Linked DNA regions of Homo sapiens. The protein of the gene in region 1 purifies or fractionates together with the protein of each later gene. This does not show direct contact. Each region holds a gene or a part of one and is shown in the gene's direction. Other genes may lie near its edges.

Region 1 (3,500 bases):
GTATCCTTAGTCCAGTTTCTTAATTTCTTGAGTCGTCAGTTGCTCCGTTTATAAAATGGTGTTCAGTGATACCTGTGTTTTTAGCTTCTCAGGCTTGTTGTGAGGTGAACATATAATGTTTCATGTAAAGCACCTTTTAGATGGTAAAGCGCTATGCAGAACTGTTCTTAACTATTACTTCTCCCATTTAAAAAATTTGCTATCTTTCTGATTCTTTTAAGAATTCTGTGCTTTCCCTGTCTCATTCCCCTCCGATAAACTGGAGAAAAAAGGGCTTAGAATGATCACCCATTTTTTTACCTAACCACTTTTCCTGCATTTACACATTTTTTTTTAAAAGAGAAGAAATAACATTTTTTTAAGAGAAAAAAGTCCCAGAGAGATTAACTTCTTCAAGGTCATAGAGCTGGTGACAAAATCAACAGACCTTTGATTTAGTTCATTCATATCTGTAACTTTATACATATTTCTACTTAACTAATTTTGGCATATTTTACGCTTTTTTTTTTTTTTTTTTAAAGGACAGGGCCTAACATGCCCAGGCTGGAGTGCAGTGGTGCAATTATGGCTTACTGCAGCCTCCAGCTCCTGGGCTCAAACAATCCTCCCACTTGAGTCTCCGTAGTAGCTGGGACTACAGGCATGTGTCACCACACCTGGATAATTTCTTAAATTTTTTTGTAGAGACGGGATCTCGTTATGTTGTCTAGGCTGGTCTAGAACTGTTGGCCTCAAATGATCCTCCTGCCTTGGTCTCCCAAAGTGCTGGCTCATGCCTGTAATCCTAGCACTTTGGGAGGCCAGGGTGGGCGGATTTGCTTGAGCCCAGGAGTTCCAGACCAGGGGGCAACGTGGTGAAACCCATCTCTAAAAACAATACAAAAATTAACCAGGCATGGTGGCACATGTCTGTAGTCCCAGCTTCTTGAGGGGCTGAGGTGGGAGGATCGCTTGAGCCTGGGAGGTAGAGGTTGCAGTGAGCTGTGATTGCACCACTGCACTTCATCCAGCCTGGGTGACAGCGAGAGCCTGTCTCAAAAAAAAAAAAAAAAAAGTGCTGGGATTACAGGTATGAGCCATCGCACTGGGCCTCTGCCATTTTTGAGAATATGCTTGAACATTCGAGACTTTCTTCTCCCTTTTGCTTCTGTCATTCTACATGTTGGCTTATCTGACATTCTAGTTTAAATTTTTCTCCTACCTAATTTTCTTAAATGTTCTTTATCCATCTGTCTTTCCTCTGATACTATTTAAAGCCGTTTGCCCTGAAGTAGGCCTACCCTCTCTTGTTTCTTTAGTAGGAGCTGTCTTCCCACTCTGTGTTTCTGAGTGACAGTTTACTCCTGTTTTCCTTTCCCTTTTCTCTCCCATCAGGCTTGAAATCTTTGTTCTTCTTCCATGTTTTCTGAAGCCTGTGCCTTTCTGATATGCCTTTGGATTGATGTTGTCAGCTTAGTTGTTTTTGTTTAATTTTTCACTTTAGGCCTTTAAAGCTACCCCAACTATTTCAGTCTCCCTTTTATTCTAGCACATTCTTGGGCAGTTTCTTTTTCTTAGATTTTACTTCTGTGCTTACATTCCACCTTCTTTTCCACTGTGCCCTCGTTTCCACACTTGGAACATTGTCTGTGACTACATGATGGCATTCAGATAATTTACTAAGTCCATTTTCAGAGCTTGTCTTTGCCTTTTATTTCAGCTAAATCTCTTCTAAAAAAAAATTGATATAGATGGTTAACCAAAATCTTCTCTTACAACAGTTTATTTCATGCCTTATTTCGTAGTCAAAACTCAACTTTTCTGCCACCTTTGTACTTCATAATCACATTTTTCCATAACCAATTCAGAATTAGTTTCATTTCTGAAGAGCTTGGACAGTGTCTGTTGACTTGAGATCCCCATAAAGTTTTCATGAGTTTGGAATTCTCTTTTTTCTTATTCAGTGTTCCAGGTCCCATTTCTTTACCAAAGCAAAATACGTGTACTCTTTACCCTTTGTTATATTTTCTGAGTCCTGTTTTGATACTATTTTCACTCATTTGTTCATTCAACAAATGTTGAGTACCCTGCACATACAGGCCCTGTTCTAGGAGCTAGGGTGTCCTGAATAACAACAAAAAGCCCCCCTTCTCATGGACCTTATCTTCTAGTTGGAGGAAGTGTGGGGTGGGGAGGGACAGTCAATAAACAGATGTACAAGTAATACATGGCACGTTAGGTGGTAAATATTAAGATGGAGAATAAGATAAGGACAGAGTGACTAGGGAGTACTCTTTTAGATAAGATTGGTAAAATAAGGTGACATTTAAATAGTGACTTGAATGAAGTGGGAAATTAGTTATGTGGATATGTGGAAGAGGAGCATTTTCAGGAATGGTATTAAATAGCAAATACAGAGGCCCTAACTTGAAATGTGTTTGGTGTGTTCAGAAAACAGCAAGCACGGCACTTTGGGAGGTCGAGGTGGGCGGATCACTTGAGGTCAGGAGTTCGAGACCAGCCTGGCCAACATGGTGAAACCTCACCTCTACTAAAAATACAAAAATTAGCCAGGCGTGATGACATCCGCCTGTAGTCCCAGCTACTCTGGAGGCTGAGGCAGGAGAATTACTTGAACCCAGGAGGTGGAGCTTGCAGTGAGCCAAGATGATGCCACCGCACTCCAACCTGGGCAGCAGCGTGAGACTCTGTCTCAAAAAAAGAAACAGAAAACAGCAAGGAAACCACTGTGGTTTTAGTGGAAGGAGTAAAGGATATGTGATTGATGTAGTAGGATAGGAAATGAGATCAGTTTGTGTAGGATATATTCTGGATATATTTTGAAAGTAGAATCAAATGAGATTTGCTGATACATTAGATGTGGGGTATGAAAGAATGGAAGAGTCATGAATGACTTAAAGGGTTTTGGCTTGAGCGATTGGAAGGAAATTATTGTTTTATTTTGACCTAAGTCTTCTGCTTTTCTTCTCTTGCCCCCACTTTTTCAGTGTTGCCATTTATGATAGCTTGCTGACACTTACTTCCCAGCCAAGCAACAAGAAAAAAGTTATATGTTCTATATTTTCACATTCCTTCAAATTGGCTGTGCTAGCTACTACTACTGTTGACCTTCTAGCCCCATCCTTTCTTCTCTAGAGGTTTTAAGGTTTCTCTGTGCAGTATGCTTGTATCAGCTCTACCAGTGGAACCGCCTTCAGGAATTATTGCAGGAAACCTTGCAACACTTTTAGTGTTGTCTATAAGTATGTCTGTGCTTCCTTGCATGAACCACTCATTCAAGATGGCTTGTGAATCCACGTAAAAAGAAATATACGAAGTTTGAACTTTAGGGGAACATTAGAGAAAATTGAATGGTTCAACATAAGGGAAGCATAGATTTAGATTCAATGTCAAAATGAAGTCAGAAATAAAACATCTTCATTTAAACCTACTGTTGAAAATAAAACTGTTACAGAAAATTGGGAAGAATGGAATTACCGTAAAATATCAAAAATAGTTCC
Region 2 (3,500 bases), on another chromosome or scaffold:
GTATAGGTGTACCATTTTTTTTCTTGTATACCTTTTATTACTGTACCTTTTTCTATGTTGAGATATGCTTAGATACACAAATACCACTGTTTTACAATTGCCTGCAGTATTCAGTGCAGTAACACAATGTACAGGTTTGTAGCCTTGGAGCAGTAGGCCAAACCACCTAACGTGGGTGTGTACAAGTAGGCCAGGCCATCTAGGTTTGTGTAAGTACACTCTGCGATGTTCACATAAGGATGAAATCATCTAAGAACACATTTCTCAGAACATATCCCTGTCCTTAAGCGATGCATGACTGTGTGTGTTTCTTCACTCTATAGTTAATCATTTTCACGTGCATTTCTTTTGTTTTGTTTCTTACAACAATGTGGTGAGACAATCAGAGCATCTCTTGATTCTTCCATCTTATAAGTGAATAAACTGAATCTGAGAAAGGTTAAGTGGCTTTAGTCACATTAAATAGTTATTTCTCCTACACCATTGTTAACACATGTAAGTTTTGTATAGTTAAGTTTTGTTTTTCCTGAAAAGATTATCTGATGCATTCTGAATATTACCAGGATGCTGAGTTTTAATATCTCTTGTGCCAGCAGTAGCAAGTAAGAATTTTTGTTTTGTATAACTTTGCTTATGTGAAAGCCTTCTGTGCCTGGATCTCTTCTGAATATATGTGAATTGCTATTATGTGCTAAGTCAAATTTTGGGGACTTGCAGCTATAGAATAAGGGCTTTATGCTATAGATTTACATCCTATTGTCTTTTTTTAGAAGGCTTCTCAACCTTGTAGCTATAGTTACTCATCCTAAATTCCAGGAAGCTTCTAGAAACAGTGGAGACTTTGCAGGCTGTCCTCAGCATCTCCCTGCCTCTGTTTACGACTTACCCTTTCATCTTTTCAGAGTGCCCATGCCCAGAGAACATGATCCCCAACTTGCCTCAGACCCTGTTCTGTTCTAGGGAGTAAATCTAATTGCAAGATTTTTAGGCTTATTAAGAAACATTTGAGATTTGAAGCCCTTTAAATTATATCATTTATCATTGTCTAGAGCCTCGGATTTCACCATGAGGCTTTTGGTTAAGATTTAAATAGGTCTAGTAACTGTGCAAGCTAGGGCAATTTAGTTAACCTCTCTGTGATTAAGTTCCTGTTTGTAAAATTAGAATAATAATGCCATCAACCTCATAGAGTTATTAGGATTAGGTGAAGCACTTAGCATAGTGCCTGTCCTATAGTAATCTATCTTATTAACTATTACGTATTTTTAAAAAAAGAACCAGTGCTGGTTTGGAAATTCAGTAACTATCTGAGGAAGATAAAAGATGGATTTATATTTTAAAAATGAATAGAACCTAGATTGTGTTCTTAAGGCAACTCTAGATTTAGGTACAAATTCATCTTGCTAGGGAAGCCTGAAGTGATACCATAGTACCACTTGCTGGTGTGGATGGCTCTCTGACTCTCTGGTAGCCATTCATCCCACATGCCCAGTTACTGTTTATAGTCCTAGAAATGCAGATTCCTTCCACGTGAGGCTTACAGTTGAGCATAGCCTCCCAAATACCACATGCAGTTCGTGAACATGAGCACTTGTAGAATATTGTGTAATATCTTTTAGATTAATGTTTTGAGACTTTTTTTTTCTTTTGAAGTCCTAGAAGGGCAGTAGTGTTTCTTTGCCTTTAAAGAATATTTGGGGCTGGGTGCGATAGCTTATACCAGTAATCTCAGCACTTTAGGAGGCTGAGGCGGGAGAATCATTGGAACTCAGGAGTTCCAAACCAGCCTGGGCAATGTAGCAAGATCTCATCTCTACTAAAAATAAAAAAATTTGCCAGGCGTGGTGGCATGTGCCTGTAGTCTCTGCTACTCGGGAGGCTGAGGTGGGATGATCACTTGAGCTGAGTGATAGAGGCTACAGTGAGCTATGATTGTACCACCGCATGCACTCTAGCCTGGGTAAAAGAGCAAGACCCTGTCTCAAAAAATAAAATAAAGATGTTTGGGCTTTTGAGTTAAGAAAGCTGTGGAATTTAAGTTCACAGTGTTTATGTGATATTTATGTTAGGTGGACGGTATACTTGTAAAAAAAGAATTTAGGAGCAAATAATCGAATTATTTAAATAAAACTCAAAGCAAACTCCTTCCCCAAAAAGATGTTCATCAGATGTTAGCTACCATCCTCTGTTATCTACCAAAAATGATTAATTTGGCATAGATTACAAATTAACAAATTACACCATCACACACCTGGGTTTGATTTTCTTTTCCCAGAACTGACCAAATACATTAGCAGCTTGCTCTGCCAAGAACAAAATAAATACACTGGATTTTACAGTAGTTAAATACTTTACTAGAAAACAAGTTATTCAGTATCATATCAAGCAGTGCAATGATACTCATGTTTTTTACAGATAGACTATGTTTCAAATAATAGGAAATGTAACCTGTTTTACCAGGAAATTGGGCTTTCTGAAAATAAACAAGCAGAATCTAGTCAGGAGCTAATGTTTTTAGCAAAGGAGGGAAATAAAATTACACCTTTGAAGCTTTGCTTAAGCTTCTTTTTGAATATTTTAAAAGTCCACCATTCTTTCTGGTCTAAGTCCGTGTGTATATGGACTAGCTCACAAGCCTGTGTTAGAGAGTTTAGTGTCGGGCGCGGTGGCTCATGCTTGTAATCCCAGCACTTTGGGAGGCTGAGGCGGGTGGATCACGAGGTCAGGAGTTCGAGACCAGCCTGGCCAACATGGTGAAACCCCATCTCTACTAAAAATACAAAAATTAGCTGAGCACGGAGGCGCACGCCTGTAATCCCAGCTACTCGGGAGGCTGAGGCAGGAGAATTGCTTCAACCTGGGAGGCAGAGGTTGCAGTGAGCCGAGATCGTGCCATTGCACTCCAGCCTGGGCGACAGGGCAAGACTCCGTCTCAAAAAAAAAAAAAAAAAAAAAAAAGAGTTTACTGTCAAAATATAGGGCATTAAACCAATGAACAGGATTTATTGGTTAATTCTTTGAAGGAATAAATAGTGCGATTAGCAATAAAAGTAGATATAACATAAAAGACAAGTTGGTAAAGGACAGTTTTCTAACAATGAGTTATTGTGAGGAATGAAGGGAGGCATTAGAAAGAATGGATAATAGTATATTTGCATATCTGCCTGGATGTCTTGGGATGGACTGTGTGACCTTTTTATTCTCTGATTACAAGTAAAAAGTTTGACCTCCTTTTTCTTAATGTTTGTCTTTTCTAGATTGTCAAAAGAGTGGGGAATGGTGAGGAAACGCCGATGATTGGAGACAAAGTTTATGTCCATTACAAAGGAAAATTGTCAAATGGAAAGAAGTTTGATTCCAGTCATGATAGAAATGAACCATTTGTCTTTAGTCTTGGCAAAGGTAAGAGGGTATTTTTTTGAGTTGTGTTTTACTTAGCTTTATTACTATTTGTAATATATAGGAGCAGAGGATTCTATCCTTTCTAAAAGTAAAGAAAT

Evidence for each region.
Region 2: the proteins of EGLN1 (region 1) and FKBP5 purify together in Homo sapiens (affinity purification with mass spectrometry; 2 studies listed by BioGRID and IntAct, with this or other methods). This does not show direct contact.

What each region holds. Positions count from the first base shown.
Region 1 is NC_000001.11:231,412,288-231,415,787, reverse strand, and holds part of EGLN1 (egl nine homolog 1), read left to right. Parts: intron 1-3,500. UniProt on the Homo sapiens protein: Cellular oxygen sensor that catalyzes, under normoxic conditions, the post-translational formation of 4-hydroxyproline in hypoxia-inducible factor (HIF) alpha proteins.
Region 2 is NC_000006.12:35,636,916-35,640,415, reverse strand, and holds part of FKBP5 (peptidyl-prolyl cis-trans isomerase FKBP5), read left to right. Parts: intron 1-3,257; coding exon 3,258-3,402; intron 3,403-3,500. UniProt on the Homo sapiens protein: Immunophilin protein with PPIase and co-chaperone activities. Component of unligated steroid receptors heterocomplexes through interaction with heat-shock protein 90 (HSP90).